Linked DNA regions of Homo sapiens: region 1 is linked to region 2. The links come from fine-mapping of genetic effects on gene expression. A gene starts in region 2. The other region holds a variant in brackets. All regions are shown on one strand. Distances are between the middles of the regions.

Region 1 (9,838 bases), 110 kb before region 2:
AGACAAAATGAATTTCAGGTAGGCACTCAAACCAGTGTCTACTGCACACTCAAACCAGGAGTCAGACATCAAACAATGAAATAATCAAAAGTGAAAACAACATACTGTTGCTTATCTCTGGGTCCTCTCCAAGGATGGCCAACCTGGGTGTCTACACTCATCTCTGGACAGCTCACTTTCCAATTCCCTGGTTAATGCTTAGAAAGAAAGTAACCCTACAATCTTCCCCACTGGGCGATTTGAACCCGAAATAATTTCCTTGAGTGCAGAAATCCAAACTTCATCTTGCCCGACAGGTGTCCCTGCAGCCTGTGTGATTCTTCCACCAGTAGGGGGCACACTCTCTCACAAGGCAGCCTCTTCCATCACCAGAAAGTCTTCCTTATTCTGTAGCTCTGGCATGATCATAAAATCTGCATCCCCATGACTTCCATCATGCTCCCCTCTGTTGCCCTCTGGCCCATTGCTCCCTCCTGGGCCTGTCCTAGACTCCAGTTCCACCTCTGTAGTGTCACTCAGCCATATCCACAAGTGCCTTGGACCAGACATTGTTTTCACAGCATGGTAGGGGATGGGTAGATTTTTCTTTCATTCAGTCTCTACAGATGCTTTACAGATGAGCTCAATGAGGCTCAGAAAGGTTAAGTAACTGGGCCAGGATCATAGACTGACTAGTGAGAGAAGTGAGGTTCAAACACAGATTATCTGACTCCAATATAACCCACTGAGTATCTGGGGTGGGGGTGTGGTGTGGGTGGTGTGCATGTGTATGTATGAGTGTGAGTGTGCATGCATGCATAGTGTGCATGTGTGTGTATGTGTATGTGTGTATGTGGCTTCTCACTATCCCCCACACTACCACCCCCAAGTCCATTGAGTATCTCTCCATTTTCCACACCTATCCCTGACTACCTCATGCAATGAGATTAACCTCCACATCGGCAGCCCTTGAATCTTTCACCTTCCCCCAGCATCAAAATACACTTCTTTGGGGTCTCAGCCTCCAGAGTCTGTGCCTGCCCACCAAAAGGGCAATGGGTTCTCCCAATGAAGCAATGAAGGCCTGTGTGATAAATGACTGTGATTTCTCTCCAGGTTTTAACTTACCCTCAGATAATGCCTTCATGCAGAGACACAGCTGGGGTGGGAATTTCTGTCACTGGAGTAGGTGTAGGAGAATTGGGGGTTCCTTTGGAGATTTGTGGTGCAACCCAAATAACATCATATAACACATCCCACCTACTCAACCTATAGGCTGAGATCCCACTTAAAGGGATGGTAGTTTGCCCTAAGGAGCCACAGCTACCAGGCTGCAATGAAGCCCTGAATGCCCTCAGTGCACTGGGGTATACATTAGAGCCCCCCTGCCATGATGTTTGGGATTCAGTGTGCCCCTTCTTTTTAAGTCACAAAACAGTCCCATCCCTGCTCTTGTAGATTCCCCAGACAGATATCACAGACCAGTTGTTTCCTGACAGAATTTTCCTCCTCCTTGGAAATCAGTGCAGAAGGGAAGAAGCAGAGCTATTTCCATAAGACAGTGCTTGTTTTTGTGAAAAAGAGTAAGGAGTTTTAGTCACACAGGGGCCTGTTCAAAGCTGGGCTCTGTCTTAAACTAATGGGACAATGTGCTAGTTTCTCAAACTCTGAGTCTAAAGTCCCATGTATAAAAGAGAATAACCCTCACCAGCTCACAGGTTGCTATGAGGATTAAATGTTATGATACCTATGGATGTTCCATGCATGCTGTAATACTCAAAGTTGCTTTTCTTTTCCTGTTATAAAAGCAAGTCCCCACTTTCCTTCTGGTACAGAAAGAAAGGGCATTTCAAAATTAAGGGTTCTCTCTCTCTCTCTCTCATATTTTTAAAAGTAATGTATGAGACAGGAATACAGTCCTTCCTTGGCAGAGACAGCTAGTGACAGCCATGTGTTTTATCAGGGCAAAGAACTCCCCAGTTTCCCAGGCATGTTCTTTACATTGTTCTTAACTGTTGTTCATTTTTGTGCTGTATCTTCCAGTTCACAATCTACCAGACTCCATGGCAAAATCTGCCTTCACTCCTGCCAAAAATGATCATTTTCTCCTTCTTTGCTTCCCAATCGACTTTCCTATTCATTCCTGATGTCACTTGAAAACTTAGCTGCCCTCCCTCATCTATGAGTCTTAAGTTCAGCCTCCTACTGCTATGATTTTTCTTCAGCATCTGGGTTGCTTAACTTACTGCTGCCAGGGGGGATACAGATGTGCAGCAGATGCCAGGCTAAGTGGAAAGAGTGTGTCAAATGGAAAATGTATTCAGGTTGCCGTATGGATGGTAGAATGCTGGTTTTTTTCCAGACCTCTGGCTCTGGAACTTTGCAGAAAGTTAAGATTTTTTGAACATCTTATTGAAGCATAACATACAAGCAGAAAAAAATATGTATATATCACAAATGTGATATATATCATATATGATATATATCATAGCTTGATGAATTTTCAGTCTAAGCACACGTGTGTAACCACTATCCAAACCAAGTAAGAAAACATGACTAGAGCTCTATTCACCCACCACTGTCATTTCCCCAAGGATAAGCACTATTCTGACTTCTTAACAAAATACTTTCCATCATCAGTATATGCAGGGAATTGGCTCCAGGACTCCAGGGAATATCAAACTCCACATGTACCCAAGTCCTGCAGTCAGCTTTGCAGAACACACCTATACAAAAAGTTGACCTTCTGTACACATGGGGTTGGCATCCCAGGAATACCGTATTTTTATCTGCATTTGTTTGAAAAAAAAATCTATTGTATAAGTTGACCCATGCAGTTCAAACCTGTGTTGTTTAAGGGTAAACTGTAAATTTGTTTTTGAATTTTGTATGAATAAAATTCTCCATGATATACTCTGTTCTGTCTGGCTTCTTTCACTGAATATTATGTTTGTAAGATATAGTCATACTGCTGCATGTCATAGTTGTTCATATTTTCTCATTGCTGCGTGTAGTTCTATTGTATAAATATGCCACTATCCATTTCATCGTTAAAAAACATTTGGAATATCTCCAGAGTGAGGCTTTTAAGAAAAGCTCTGCTACGAAGATTCTTGTGCACGTCTTATATTGCATATGTGTGTTCTCTTGGGTACATACCTAGAAGTAGAATTGCTGGATTATAGGGTATCCATATACTAAACTTTAGTAAACTACCAGTTTCCAAAATGGTTAGACCATTTTATGCTCCCACCATCATAGGATGAGAGTTTCAGATGCTCTGTGTCCTCATCAACACCTGGTATTGTCTATGGTGTTTTGATTTTGCCTTATCTTCTTATTTGTTTTTTGGCATTCTAGTGGATGTGTAATTGTACCTCGTTATGGTTTTATTTGGCATTTTCCAAATGATGAATGAAGTTGAGCACATTTTACACATATTTATTGGCCATTTGTGTATCCCTTTTGTAAAGTGCCTATTAAAGTGTTTCATATATTTTTAAACTTTTTAATACTGTATTTTTAAAGTTTTTTATTAATTAAAAGATTTAAGTTTTTATGTAAGACTAGAATTGGAGAGTTGGTCACACTTTAATGGACTTTTCTATCACTTGTCCTGATTTTATAATAACTATAAATGTCTCCAGTTATCCCTAATGGCATCTCAAATTGTCAGAAATTTCTCCAAGCAATTTACTTTTATTCAAATGTGCACTCTATAGCACTTTTAGAAACCATGGATGGATATTCAGAAACCTAGTTTTTGTTATTTTATTTTACTGAATAGCTCTGTGACCACAGGCAAAGATTTCATTCTTCTTTAGTCTTAGTATCCCCACCTGAAAAATGAAAAGGCTGAATTTGAGATCGTCCATCTCTAATATTCTATAACATACTAATAAGTACGTTACTTGGAAGGGCAAGGAACAGGGTAAAAGAGATACTATGAAACTTAAAGAATTCCCATAAGCTTGGTAACCCTTGCTCTTGAATGAAAAATCTGCAAAACATTCTAAACCTCAATTTCAAAATTTCTTCCATCTTCTTTCATGTCTTAAATTTTACCCAAATTGTGTTTTCCACGCTAGGAGAAATATTGTATCAAAGCTCTAGTTATCCTTCTCTTCTTCAAAATTTTTTTCTTTACTGCAAACAGTAACTGGATCAGAATTGCCACTCTCCTCAAAATAAAGCAGCTCAGTATGGTTTGGTTTTGTTTTGGGGTGTGTGTGTGTGTGTGTGTGTGTGTGTGCGCGCCTGAAATGGAGGCAAAGAAAAAAAAATAAAACACTTATCTTGCATGACCTAACCATAGAACCCTGGACCAGCCTACTGCACCTATCCTACTTTCTATATACTTTTGCTTCCTTGAACAGATCCTTCTAAGCACTCAAAAGTAAAATGGGTGTCACTAACCTGAAATCCACAGTCCACATTTTCTCTCTCCCCTTCCTCAATAGTGGCTTAACTTCAGCTGCCCGATGGTGAACTGTTGTATCCCCACCTTAACTGGAAGATTTTACAAAATAGCATTTAAAAAGTCTTTACAACTTCAGTGAAATGAAAGATTTCATATAACAAGACACAAAATGCCATAAGCATAGGGGAAGTGATTAATAAATTAGACAATGTTTAAAAGAAGAAGCACGTTCATCAAAAGACACCATCAGAGAAAGAAAAGGCAAAGCATAGAGGGAAAAGGATATTTGATACATGGATAACCAACAAAGGACTTGTGGCTAGATTATTGTTTTCTAAAACCTTACAAATCAGTGAGAAAAGATAGACAACCCAATAGAGAATAAGCAGGACCTGTGAACAAACACTTTAAAAAGAAGATAAATAAACTTATAAACAGATGCACCCTCGGTAGTAATCAGGGAAATGCATATTAATACCTCCGTGAGATGCTACTATATGGACACCAGACTCATCATTACTTAAACATGCAAAAATATTGAATGTTGGAGAGGGTATGGAACAATGTAAATTCTTATACTTGCTAGTGGGAGTGTAAATTGGGACATCTACCTTTTTACGGGCAGTAAGACACAGTCTAATAGAATTAAAGATATATATAATCTGTGTGTGACTCAGTAATTGTACTGCTAACGCATAGCCTACAGAATTGCATACATATGTGCATCAAGATACATGTACTAATTTATAAGTGCATCATTCACAAGAGCAAAAAGCAAGAAACAATCTAAATATCAATCAATGGTATGAGGTTTAGATAAATTATTATATATTCATCCAGTAGAATACTGTAAGTAATGAAAATGAATGACTACAGCTATACAGAATGAGTTGAATGAACCTTCAAAACCCCATGTCAATAAAGGAAACCAAATGCAAAACAATACAT[G/A]CCATTTGATTCAATCAATATAAAGTTCAAAAAAAGGCAAAACTTCTGGGCATAGTGTCTCATGCCTGGAATTCCAGCACTTTGGGAGGCCAAGCCAGGCAGATCACCTTAGGTCAGGAGTTCAGTTGGAGACCAGCCTGGCCAACAAGGTGAAACCCCATCTTTACTAAAAATACAAAAATTAGCTGGGCGTAGTGGCAGGTGCCTGTAATCCCAGCTACTCAGGGGGCTGAGGCAGGAGAATCTCTTGTAGCTGGGCATAGTGGCAGGTGCCTGTAATCCCAGCTACTCAGGGGGCTGAGGCAGGAGAATCTCTTGTAGCTGGGCATAGTGGCAGGTGCCTGTAATCCCAGCTACTCAAGAGGCTGAGGCAGGAGAATCTCTTGAATCTGGGAGGCGGAGGTAGCAGTGAGCTGAGATTGCACCAGTGTACTCCAGCATGGGCAACAGAGCAAGACTCTGTCAAAAAAAAAAAAAGGCAAAACTAAACTATATTATTTGTGGATTATTAAAAATATAAAGAAAAGCATATAAATGATTGCTTTAACCCTAGAATAGAGGTTACCTCTAGGGGAAGGAGGAAGAGAGATGTGTACTCACAGTTTCTGGTTTGCTGATAGCATTCTGATTCTTGATGTGGTGGTAGTTCACAGATGTAACCTTCACAACAAATTCTTACACAATATAATGATGTTTTAGGAAATTTTTGATATATGCTTTATTTTACAATATAAAAATAAAATAATGTGTGTCAATACCTGGCACATAGTAAATGCTCAATACATAATCAATTATTATCATAAATATATAATAATTGTATTTTTAAAGTACTTTGCATTTTACAAAGTGTTTTTCATGAAAAACAGGCATTGTTATTATTCCTGTTTCACAGATGAAAAACTAAGGCTTATTCTTGCCACAACGCAGCTAACCAAGAAGGAACACAGCTGGAAGCACAGCTCGGGTCTGCTGCTTTCAAATCCCATCTCTCTTCTAGGCTTTCCTACCTGCCATGTTGTTTAACCAAGGAAAATGAGCCAACAGCCTGATATGCAAAATCTCATTCATAACAGTGTTTGTTTAGCTGTGTGACTTGAGTCAAATGTCCGTGTGTGTGTGTGTGTAAGCCTTGGTTTTCCCTTGGGTCAAAGGTGTATGCAGGCTTCCTATTTGCTATAGAACCCAAAGTGACAGAAACAAACACATGTTGTGAGGTATAAAATGCTAAACATACTCAGTGAGTGCTGCTTTGATGTGCTTTTATCTATACTTTGAGTCTGAGCTTATTTTAATACTCAGTGTAAAACCAACATTGATGTTAACAGTTTCTCACTCTTCCTCCCAATGCTCCCACCTATCCACCACCAAAAGAAATAAATAATAAGGAGCCTGGTCTAATTGATGAGTTGAACATCAGGACCAATTATAACCAGACTGCACAGGACCAACACAGCCAAGTGTAACTGTAAACAATAGAAAGCATACATCTTTTCCTCACTGAAAGTTGATAAAAAGCATTTTCCCATTACATCCGTTGGAGAGAAGTTAAAGTGCACAAACTGGGAAATTAAGCTTATTTTCAGGCTGTTTTAACCGAAAACAATCTCTAGGCCTATCTCACATGTCTTCTGACAGGAGGGCATCCACTAGGAAGATTACGTCTATTATCAAGGTGAGCAATGAACTTTCCATTTACATTAGACTTTTATAATCTGATGAAAGAAAGGTACATTTATCTAGTCTTTTAAAAAGGAAAAGGAAACCCTACAAATCTGTCCATTATACCTGCCGAGAATCTAAAGTGAGGTCAAGACAAAAGCAGATTACTTTTGATAGTGTTAATAAGAGTTTATTGCAAGGCCTGTGAGCCAGATCTCCCTCTGTGGATTTCTGAATGGCTTTAGGAGCTGGGCTATTCTTAGAGTAATGAGAAAGAGCCTTATCTCACTCTATAGGAAATTCAAAGATCCCCATGGCTTCAGAAGCCTTACTGATGCACTTTAGCAAAACTGAAAGCTAGGGTGGTTACTATCACAAATTCATGTACAATATTAGGGATATAAAAAACCCTAAGAGGCATAGGCATGCAGTTCCCAATATGGTATATTAATAACAGCACCCCATAAAACCCTAATGGGACTGTGGCTGTTGCTATGACTAAATTTCGTTTTGAGGCAGTATTAGCAGTAGTATTATTAGTAAGTTAGGGTTATTGGTTTTCAGTATCAGACACTGACTCTAATTTAGATAACAGGGAATATATTGGAAAATTATTGAGGGCTCAAAGAATTAGTGAGTGGTTGGGTTTGGGAAGAAGTGGGAACCAAGAGAGTGACAGAGAACAGGACTCAGGCAGCAAAGCAACAGTCTCCTTGTCTATTGCAATAAGAAAACCCTAGTCAGGTAGGGTACCATCTTTATTATGTACGACCTATAGTCACTGTGTTCTTGGGTGACTGGATCAAGGTGTGAAGTTCTAGGAAAGATCATCTGATTGGCTAAGCTCAGATCATAGGTAACCTCCCTTCCCACAAAATAAACTTATATAGGGGACAAAAGCAGATGGAATATGACCCATTTCAGCTTCAGCAGTGGGCATGGAGTACCTGAAAATTTCTCTGCCACCAAGGCTACATAAGACGTCTCACTGAAAGTTCACTAAAGCCTCGATTTTTTGTCTGACTCAAATCCTCAGATAAAAAAGTCTTGAAAAAGACCTTGATTGCCGTTCCTGGAAGAGACACACTAACTGTCCCTATGTCTGTCCCTCAGTTCCCAGTCTCACATTCTTCACTAAATATAAACATACTTTATTTTTACTCTTAGATAATGAATGTTTTGAGGGCAGAGCATGCATCTTCATAAGAAGCCCAGGAGATGCTTGGCTTGTGAATGTTTTCTCTGAATTGCTGGTGAGTGGAAACAGTGGGTCCCCACTGGACTTTTGCCAGGCACTGCTTCAGAAGGCTTCCCCAGACTGATGAAAGGATGCACATGGATGGCCCGGGGCCCAGCCCGTGGTTGGGATCACGGGTTGTTTAGTGTTAAAATCCAGTTTTTATGCACTGGCGCATGAAGGAAAAATGAATCATTTAACCCCCTCAACCCCTCTTTGTCCCCTCAGCTCGTGACTCCATCCACCACCATCAAGATTGAGAGCACTACATAATGATGGGAGTGCCTGAAGCCACGTCTAAGGGTTTGCTTTAGGCTTCATCCTCTTTGTACTTCTGTCCCATTATCATCATCATCATCATCATCATCACTAAATGGTTTTCTTCTTCTTAAAGACATGCAGCAAGCACTCAATTAATGTCCACTATGAACAACATTCTATGCCAGATACTAGGCTAAGCATTTTAACATGAATTATCCAATTTAATCCTCATAATGACTACATTAGGCAAGAACTCCTACCATTTGTGACTGGTTTGACAGAGGAGCCCAGCTTTTTCTTGTTTTTCACTATCTGCTTTTTTGGAGAGGTATGGCAGAGTGAGGATAGAAAGTGCAAATTCAGGAGCCAGCTTGAGTTCCAATCTCACTCCCAGTGCTTACTCTCTATGTGACCTTGGATCAGATACTTAACTTCTCTGTGCTTCAGCTTGTTCTTCTATAAATGGAGATAGTAATAGTTCATACTTTATAACAGTATGTGTTAAATGAGCAAAAGCACTCAGAAAATTCCCAGTGTATTACAAGTATTCAATAAATGTTTAGAGTGGCCATGTCAACCTTCCTCACATCTACTTAACTCCACACCTCATGCCCCAGTCTCCCCTATCCTGAAAAGATTCCGATGGCCTGTAACTGCAACCCAGTTCTGGCCAGTAGAGACCAAAATGGGTTTGTGAAGTAGCCCATCTCATCAGGAAAGCCCGTATTCACTTTCACCTTCACAAAAAGCACAAGGAAATCCCTTAGGATGTTTCAGATGTCCTCTCCATAACATTACAGTATTTTTGTTCATTCTCCCTCGTCAGCACCTGTCTAGAGAATGGCTATTTTCGATTACAGATTTGATGTCTTAAGCTTGCTTTATTTACTTTTTATTATAAATTTGACTGCTTAGGATTTTCTGTTCTTAATTTCAGACATTTATATCTCATTTTCTTTATGAGAAAATCTAGGAATTATAGGTTTAATGCCATGGTAAGTAATATTAAAATAAATAGCAAGGCATGAATTGGTAAATTAAAACATCTAATAATTGGATTGGAGAAATACAAAAACTCTGGATTCAGTGAACCAGCACCAGTCTAATTTAAATGTCTAATTAAAAGTTATTTGGAGGCACAGCATACACGAACTGCATTGCTGTCTTCAATGACTGGGAATGAAGCTTGGTAACCAGAAGAAAAATTGGAATTGCATGAAGAAATGGGAATGGAGTGTAATATTTAATCAGAGTACTCCATTTTTATCAAGGCCTGTCCGACTCTACATTCCATTACCACTTCATTAAAAAATATGCTGTCCCCGGTGCTGAAA
Region 2 (9,472 bases):
TATGTTGAACAGGAGAACTTTACCACCTAGCTGTCAGTACTGGGCCAGATCCACCACACCTAACAGTAACAGCCCAGTTCTCAGATGCCAGGGGCTAGTGTCCTCTTTTTCAATGTGATAATCCAGGAATGCTACTATTAAGGATATGGGCTAGCAGGACTCTGAGGTGGGATGGAAGGCTCTCAGCTTCCCACAGGTGAGGAGAGAGGGTCTCAATGGACTACGTAGGGGTGGGCATCCTGCAGTTGGTGAGATCACATTGAACATTTGTAAGGAAAACCCAATGTCAGGGCACCAATGTGAAAAACATCACTCCTTACTCTGGAAGAATCCAGACTGCTTAAGGTGATAGCCGTGGCCAAAAGAGGGAACAGCTCTGAGGTCATTAATTTACCAAGCATTTTGATGATTCACTGTTACTACATTGTAGTCTCTTCCTCAGGTATAAGCCCAAATCTTCCATTTCCAGAAAAGAAACACATCACAAGTTGGGACATTGTTGAGCGATCACAGGAAACTTTCTCAATTTTTTTGTGAGGGCCAAAGGGGCCCCCAGCTTGAATAAAACCTCTTTATGGAAGTGTTTGGTGAAGGTTTTTGGAGATGGCCATCAAAGCTGAACTGATGGCTTATCTTCAAAGGACCTTCCTCAGGTGGCCACTTTCATTCTCTGTGCATGAATTCTTTCCGCAGCCCAAGCGACAATGAAAACTGCATAGGCTTTCTTATTAAGAGTGCTAATATGGAATTTCTAATGTGGAATTTGTAAAACCACTGAGTTTTGTGCAATTTCCCTTCTAATTATTAGTTTCTTTCTTTTACTTTTTATTTGTCCTGATACTTTAATTATTTCAAGTTTCTTTTTTTTCAATAGTCATTTTTAAGTACCATTCAGGATTTTATAAAAATATTAGTAATCGGGTAGTCTGTTTAAAATTCCTTAGATTTCTCTTGAGATGTTGTTTATATTCTTCTTAGTCTGCTTAGTAAACACTTCATATCCTCTCTTTAAAAAAAAGCAGATATGTCAGAAATATGATAGCAGTAATTACGTGCCCAGAACTTATTTTTTTTTTTTTGAGACCTTGCCCTGTCACCCAGGCTAGCATGCAATGGCGCAATCTCGGCTCACTTCAACCTCCACCTCCTGGGTTCAAGCAATTCTTCTGCCTCAGCCTCCCGAGTAGCTGAGATTACAGGTGCGCACCACCAAGTCCAGCTAATTTTTTGTATCTTTAGCAGAGGCGGGTTTCACCATGTTGGCCAGGCTGGTCTTGAACGCCTGGCCTCATGATCCACCCACCTTCGCCTCCCAAAGTGGTGCCCAGAACTCTTTCACTGTAAGATATGTCTGTGATGCTTCTGGGCCTGCTGTTGAAACCAGTCCCAAAGAGTTCATAATGACTAACAGAAAATCTTGATTTTGCAGAATGGCAGATGAAAAAAAACCAAGTCACTGAAACACTGAAACTCCCTCTGCTTTTGAGGTAAAAGAACTGCCTAACATTGGTTGGGACCAAGATGGCCTACTAGAACAAGCTTGCTGAAACTGCAGCCTGGATTTCCACTGCTTGTTTCATACTAACTTCTCCCAAATTTGCACATATGACTCATAAGGTAGCATGAAGAGATAACTGCACATGCCTGAGGACTTTTCAGACTCTGCTTACCTTCCACCAATCACCTGCTAACCCCAGTATCCACCCCATAAAACTTTTCTAAAAACTGCCTTGGAGCCAACACAGGAGACAGATGAGCTTGACTCCTGTCTTCTTGGTTGTTGAATTTCAGTGTAAGGCTTTTATTTTCTCAAAACCCATTGTCCTAGTATTGCCTTCTAGTGCATCAGGCAGTGAGCCCCTTTTGCTCCATAACACTGTTTCCTTCCTACGAGCAATGTCATTTACCCACATTGGGCTCTGCTGTCTTCAAAGGTTCTCCATTTGTACATTCACTTTCTGATTTTTCAAAGTTCCATGGCATCTGTTTCTTCTAATGGTTAAGAGTGGCCAGCAAGACACCTTGTCATGAAGATGTTTTGTACACCAGCCTGGGGGCCAGGGTAAATTCTGCCAAGACATCAGCCGTGTTTTTCAGGCTTCTCTCTGCAAGCCTCAAAGAATGTGCAAACCACAGCATGTTTGTGGTAGCCTCACATACTGATCCTACAGCACTTATGTCCTCCTCACTCTTCATTTTGAAGAAGGTTATCTTCAAAATGACCTTGCTGTGAAGCTCTGTTAGCTCTGATAGGGCGCATTTCTCATTGACATAGTGATTCAGAAAATGCAAGCAGCATATCAATGACTGTCATCTGGACTTCCATACCGATGGGACATATAGGGGAGGATTGACAGGTAGGCTAAAAATGCTGGGTAGAGAAGCTGGTGCCAGGAGAAATTTTTGGAAATTGAGTGGAGGATCTAAAATCCTTGCAGCCAGGAACTAAGAAAACTGGGGTTGGGACGTGGGGAGAGGGAAGCTGTAGACTATAGACTGTAGTCAGAGGCTGAGACTCAGGGCAGGATGCAGGTGAGAGTGGAGAGGCTTTCCTTAGGAGAGGACCATGGGAAATAAGTCTCCATGAAAGGGCCTTGGAGCAGGAGCCAGAACCCAATCATCACCATCCCTTCACCCCATCCCTTCAAGCCCAGCCCCTCTCTGCCGGGCTCACTCCCTGGTAACCTGGCTTTTATCAACCCCCTCTTCCTGGCTGGCCAATCCCCAGCTCCACTCCATGTGGGTCACAATCTGACCATTGTGACCTAATGCTCCCCCACCCCACTTGTGATTCCGTCACCGGAATTTCTTCTCAAGTGGTCTCTGATCCAGAGAGACACACCCAGCGGCAGCCGTTGACTCCCTCCACCCTTGCTTCCCTCTCAACCATCTCACCTCCATCTGTCCAGTGGAGCCAGATGTCCCACCTTCTTGGGAGAAATTAATTGAGGCTCATTTCCAGGACAGAGGGGCAAGCTGGGTCTGAGGAGCCAAGCAGAAAAACTTCCCAAAATCACTGGGTGGGGAGGGGTCAGAGACTTACTGCTGCCCCAGCTGTTCTGACTCTGCCCCCAGCTTTTGGCCCCACCCTTTTAAAGCACCTTCAGAGGTTCCCAATGGTGACAGTAAACAAGTCTCCACTGTCCTGGCCATCTCTGCTGTGTTCACCCTACTCCTGATCTTTCTGGCTGCTCAGGGACTGACAGCCAAGATGTGAGGCTGTGATGAGCAGGAACAGGGAGGCCTGGAGCCCCCAGGTGAGTGGAGTGGCTTGGCTTTAGGGAAGAGCAGCCTAGGTAAGTGGATATGGATGGAAGAGGCTCTGAAATTTGGGATCTGAACTTGGGGATCAAGGCAGCAGTTCTTTCTTTATAGGAACTTCCTATTAAAAAACATTTTTTTAATTTTTTTAATAAAAACAGGAAAGAGCCTTATAGGAAAGGGCTCAGTACTGTAGCCCAGGCTCTCAAAAATTATCAGTATAACTTAAGGTTTCTATGCCCAGTTACTTTTCCTATTTTAGTATAATAAAATAAAATATCTGACTCACTAGAGGAAATGCATAAAATGTGTACTCGAAGCACAAAGATAATTAATTAAAGAATCCCAGCATAGCCATCATTTGTCTTAAGAAACAGAGCAGTATTTACCTTAGCCTTCTTCTGTGGGCCCCCACCCCCTATATCAAAAAACCACCTCCTCGGTAGCCATTATGCTGAATTTTATGTTTATTTATCAATTGCTATTCTTTGTAGCTTGACTTCAACTTTCTGTACTCTTAAACAATATATTGAATAGATTTGCATGTCCATAAATTGTAAATATGGCTTTACAGTATATTATTCTCCGGGTCTTTTTTTGTGGTGCCGTATCTTGCTCCCACTGATGCACCTCCTGAATGTCTGTCATTCTCACCTATGTCTCTCCCTTTCTACCCTTCTTCTAGCCATTGTCATCACTTCCCTGATCTGCCTAAATTCTGCCCAGCAGTCCGTGAAAATGGTTTGCTGATGACATATGTAAGGACTTTAACTCCCCTCAAGCAATCTGCTCATCTCAAAGGGTAAAACATTGGCTCACTCCTAATGCAATAAATGACACATAAGGTCACAATTCAATGGTACTCTCCTTGGATACTGCTTCTTATGTGAACATCAAACTTACACTTGCTTCCTACACACTAACATATCTTGTATATTTGGAGTAAAAATTAGAGAAGTACATACAGGGATTTAAAATATAAAACATTTTTTTAGTTACCATTTCAATCTCGCTGCTTGTTATTGGTCTGTTCAGGGTATCTAATTCTTCCTGTTGTAAGATAGGAGGGTTATATCATTCCAAGGAGTTATCCACCTCCTCTAGGTTTTCTAGTTCATGCGCATGAAAGTGTTCATCGTAGCCTTGAATGATCTTTTGTATTTCTGTGGTGTCAGTTGTAATATCTCCCATTTCATTTCTGATTGAGTTTATTGGGATTTTCTGTCTTCTTGGTTAATTTTGCTAATGTTCAATCAGTTTTATTTATCTATTTTATTTATTAAGCTGGTTTCAAGAACAAGCTTTTTGTTTCATTTATCTTTTGTATTGTTTTTCGTTGTTATTTCAATTTCATTTAGTTCTGCACTGATCTTGTTTATTTCCTTTTTCTTGCTGGGTTTGGGTTTGGTTTGTTCTTGTTTCTCCAGTTCTTTGAGGTGTGAACTTAGGTTGTCCGTTTATGCTCTTTCAGATTTTTTGATGTTGGCATTTAGAGCTGTGAACTTTCCTCTTAGCACTGCCTTTGCTGTATTCCAGAGGTTTTGATAGGTTGTGTCACTATTTGCATTCAGTTTGAAGAATTCTTTAATTCCCATCTTGATTTCATACTTGACCCAGTGATCATTTAGGAGCAGGTTATTTAATTTCCATGTATTTTCATGGTTTTGAAGGTTCCTTTCGGAGTGGATTTCCAGTTTTATTCCACTGTGGTCTGATAGAGTACTTTATATAATTTCAATTCCCTTAAATTTACTGAGGCTCATTTTGTGGCCTATCATAAGGTCTATCTTAGAGAAAGTTCCATATGCTGATGATTATAATGTATATTCTGTAGTTGTTGGGTAGAATGTTCTGTAAATATCTGTTAAGTCCATTTGCTCTAGGGTATAGTTTAAATCCATTGTTTCTTTGCTAACTTTCTGTCTTGATGACCTGTCTAGTGTCGTCAGTGGAGTATTGAAGTCCCCCACTATTATTGTTTTGCTGTCTATTTCATTTGTTAGATCTAGTAGTAATTGTTTTATAAACTTGGGAGCTCCAGTATTAGGTGCATATATATTTAGGATTGTGATATTTTCCTGTTGAACAGGCCTTTTATCATTATATAATGTCTCCCTTTGTCTTTCTTAACTGCTGTTGCTTTAAAGTTTCTTTTGTCTGATATAAGAATAGCTACTCTTGCTCGCTTTTGGTCTCCATCTGCATGGAATCTCTTTTTCCACCCCTTTACCTTAAGTTAATGTGAGTCCTTAAGTGTTAGGTGAGTCTCTTTTTTTTTTAATTTTTAAATTATTATTATTATTATTATTATTATACTTTAAGTTTTAGGGTACATGTGCACAATGTGCAGGTTTGTTACATATGTATACATGTGCCATGCTGGTGTGCTGCACCCATTAACTCTTCATTTAGCATTAGGTATGTCTCCTAATGCTATCCCTCCCCCCTCCCCCCACCCCACAACAGTCCCCAGAGTGTGATGTTCCCCTTCCTGTGTCCATGTGTTCTCATTGTTCAATTCCCACCTATGAGTGAGAACATGTGGTGTTTGCTTTTTTGTCCTTGCAATACTTTACTGAGAATGATGATTTCCAATTTCATCCATGTCCCTACAAAGGACATGAACTCCTCGTTTTTTATGGCTGCATAGTATTCCATGGTGTATATGTGCCACATTTTCTTAATCCAGTCTATCATTGTTGGACATTTGGGTTGGTTCCAAGTCTTTGCTATTGTGAATAGTGCCTCAATAAACATACGTGTGCATGTGTCTTTATAGCAGCATGATTTATAGTCCTTTGGGTATATACCCAGTAATGGGATTGCTGGGTCAAATGGTATTTCTAGTTCTAGATCCCTGAGGAATTGCCACACTGACTTCCACAATGGTTGAACTAGTTTACAGTCCCACCAACAGTGTAAAAGTGTTCCTATTTCTCCACATCCTCTCCAGCACCTGTTGTTTCCTGACTTTTTAATGATTGCCATTCTAACTGGTGTGAGGTGGTATCTCATTGTGGTTTTGATTTGCATTTCTCTGATGAGGTGAGTCTCTTGAAGGCAGCAAATAGCTGGTGAATTCTTATCCATTCTGCAATTCTGTATCTTTTAAGTGGAGCATTTAGGCCATCTAAATTAAATATTAGTATTGAAATGTGAGATACTGTTCCATTCATAGTGCTATTTGTTGTACGTATATGCAATTCTCATCAAAATACCACCATCATTCTTCACAGAACTACAAAATCAATTCTAAAATTTATATGGAAGCAAAAAAGAGCCCGCATAACCAAAGCAAAAAGAACAAATCTGGAGGCATCACATTACCTGATTTCAAACTATACTATAAGGCCATAGTCACCAAAATATCATGGTACTGATATAAAGCTAGGCACATAGACCAATGGAACAGAACAGAGAACCCAGAAATAAACCCAAATACTTACAGCCAACTGATCTTTGACAAAGCAAAAAAAGACATAAAGTGGGGGAAAGGACACCCTATTCAACAAATGGTGCTGGGATAATTGGCAAGCCACATGTAGGAGAATGAAACTGGATCATCATCTCTTACCTTATACAAAAATCAACTCAAGATGGATCAAGGACTTAAATATAAGATGTGAAAAAATTCCAGCAGATGACATCAGAAAAACTCTTCTAGATATTAGCTTAGGCAAGGATTTCATGACCAAGAACCAAACAGCAAATGTAATATAAACAAAGATAAGCAACTGGGACTTGATTAAACTAAAGAGCTTTTGCATAGCAAAAGGAACAATCAGCAGAGTAAACAGAAAACTGACAGAGTGGGAGAAAATCTTCACAATCAATACATCTGGCAAAGGACTAATATCCAGAATCTAAAATGAACTCAAACAAATTAGCAAGAAGTAAACAAACAATCCCATCAAAAAGTGGGATAAGGACATGCATAGACAATTCTCAAAAGAAGACATACAAATGGCCAACAAACATATAAAAAATGCTCAACATCACTAATGATCAGGGAAATGCAAATCAAAACCACAAAGTGATACTACTTCACTCCTCCAAGAATGACCATCATCAAAAAATTTAAAAAAAAAAAAAAGATGTTGGCATGGATGCAATGAAAAGGGAACACTTCTACACTGCTTGTGGGAATGTAAACTAGTACAACCACTATGATAAAAACAGTATGGAGATTCCTTAAGGAACTAAAAGTAGAACTACTATTTGATATAGCTATCCCACTACTGAGTATCTACCCAGAAGAAAAGAAGCCATTATACAAAAAAGATACTTGCTCATGCATGTATATAATAGCACAATTCACAATTGTAAAAATGTGGGACCAACCCAAATGCCCATCAATCAATGAGTGAATAAAGAAACTGTGGTGCCTAGATATGTGTGTATATATATGTGTGTGTATATACATATATATATGCTACAGTTTCTGTGGCACATACACACACACAATGGAATACTACTCAGCCATAAAAAGAAATGAATTAATGGTATTTGAAGCAAACTGAAAGAGATTGGAGACTATTATTCTCAGTGAAGTAGGTCAGGAATGGAAAACCAAACATCGCATTTTCTCACTCATAAGTGGGAGCTAAGCTATGAGGATACAAAGGCATAAGAATGACACAATGGACTTTAGGAACTCAAGGGAAAAAGGTGGGAAGGGGGTGAGGGAGAAAAAACTACTAATTGGGTGCATTGTACACTGCTCTCACGTGATAGGTGCACCAAAATCTCAGAAATCACCAATAAAAAACTTACCCATGTAACCAAACATCACCTGTCCCCCAATAACCAACGGAAATAAAAAATTTTAAAAATAATAAATAAAACTGTCTGCTCTTCAGTAAGTTGTGTTTGCATTAAGAGAATATCTAGAAACCACCTACGGGAAGCAAGCATAGGCCACTTGGAAGAAGTTTCAAGAAGGAGAGCTGACCCCACCTTTGTACGCTGGCAGCACAAGGAGCCCTCAGTAAGTGTTACCCTTCCTTATCATGTGCTAAATGTTTAAGGCTTTGAGTCAGACAACTTCAAGATTGGTGATCTCTGTCAACCTCATGGCTTTGTCTAGAGGGTCAACTGAGAAAAGCAACAACGAGTTGGTGCATTTTTCAAGAGTCATGCAAGTAGTGTTGTCTTCCCTCTCTCTTTAGGCTTTGATGCTTTAGTCTTTACATTTACTGTAACACTGATCATGATCTGTTGTTTATTCAAGTTATTTAGGCTGATGCTGCTAAAGCTAACTGTATTAAGGACCATTTTTAAAATTTCCAGTCCTTTTCAAGTAAATATTTTTGTAAAAGAAAAATTTTTTAAAATTACTGAAAAGAGGAAATGCGAAAATTATACACATTAGAAGTCAAAAGTGTTTACTGATAAATTTAGAAAATGTAAAACTAAATTTAAATACATATATCAGGACAGATATATGGAAGAAAAATAATTTCAGAAACTGTACTTGGTGTTTGCTGAATGTGTGCATTGGGGAATGAGTGTGGAAAAGAGCAACTCAAGCTGTGTTTTTCCTCTCTTCTCTCAACAACAACAATCAACACAGAAGACTTCTGCCACCAAATATGTGCAGGTTTCTCTCCATACCCCAAGCTAGCAATTGATTCTGCAGTGGAAACCACCTGGGTGTCTCCAATTTAATTTAGTTCTGACACTATCTACCTGGGGATAGCCTCAGAAACCACAGGTTGAGGGCTCAGTCCCACAAGAACACCCCCTTCTTCTAACCAGTTGAAACTCCACACCTCCAGAACTTCTCACTGACTGGCTTCAAGCTGTGTTTCCCACAAACCCCTGTTTGAGTTTGACTAATTTGCTAGAGCAGTTCACAGAACACAAGGAAATACTCATGTTAATCAATGTATAACAAAGGATGTTTTAAAGGATCCAAATGAAAAATCAGATGAAGAGATATATACTGTGAGGCCTGGAAGAGCACAGGAGCTCCTGTCCCCATGGAGTTGGGGTGTGTCACCCTCCGGGCACATGGACAAGTTCTCCTTCACCTGCCTGTCAGCCTCCACATGTTCAGCTCTCCAGAAGCTCTACACACCCTGTCCTCTTAGGCATTTTATGAGGACTCCATTGGATAGGCATGACTGACATATGTGTAGAAATGTGATTGGATCAAAGGGTATGATCTATAATATCTATTATAATGCTGATAGACTAAGTGGGGAAACCC

Evidence for each region. PIP is the estimated chance that this variant, and not a neighbour inherited with it, causes the effect.
Region 1: its variant is fine-mapped to the expression of LINC01722 in testis (GTEx, PIP above 0.99).

Annotation. Positions count from the first base shown.
Region 1 is chr20:12,838,130-12,847,967 of GRCh38, forward strand. No RefSeq gene overlaps it. Among named protein-coding and RNA genes, the nearest start is that of LINC01723, 110 kb to the right of the region's middle. The variant G/A (reference allele first, on the strand shown) is at 5,348.
Region 2 is chr20:12,947,505-12,956,976 of GRCh38, forward strand. It overlaps LINC01722 (long intergenic non-protein coding RNA 1722), which reads right to left and starts at 5,015. Exons shown (of 12, transcript NR_109868.1): 1 at 4,261-5,015; 2 at 2,896-2,982. LINC01723 (long intergenic non-protein coding RNA 1723) reads left to right here and starts at 2,836. Exons shown (of 2, transcript NR_109870.1): 1 at 2,836-3,257; 2 at 3,947-4,123.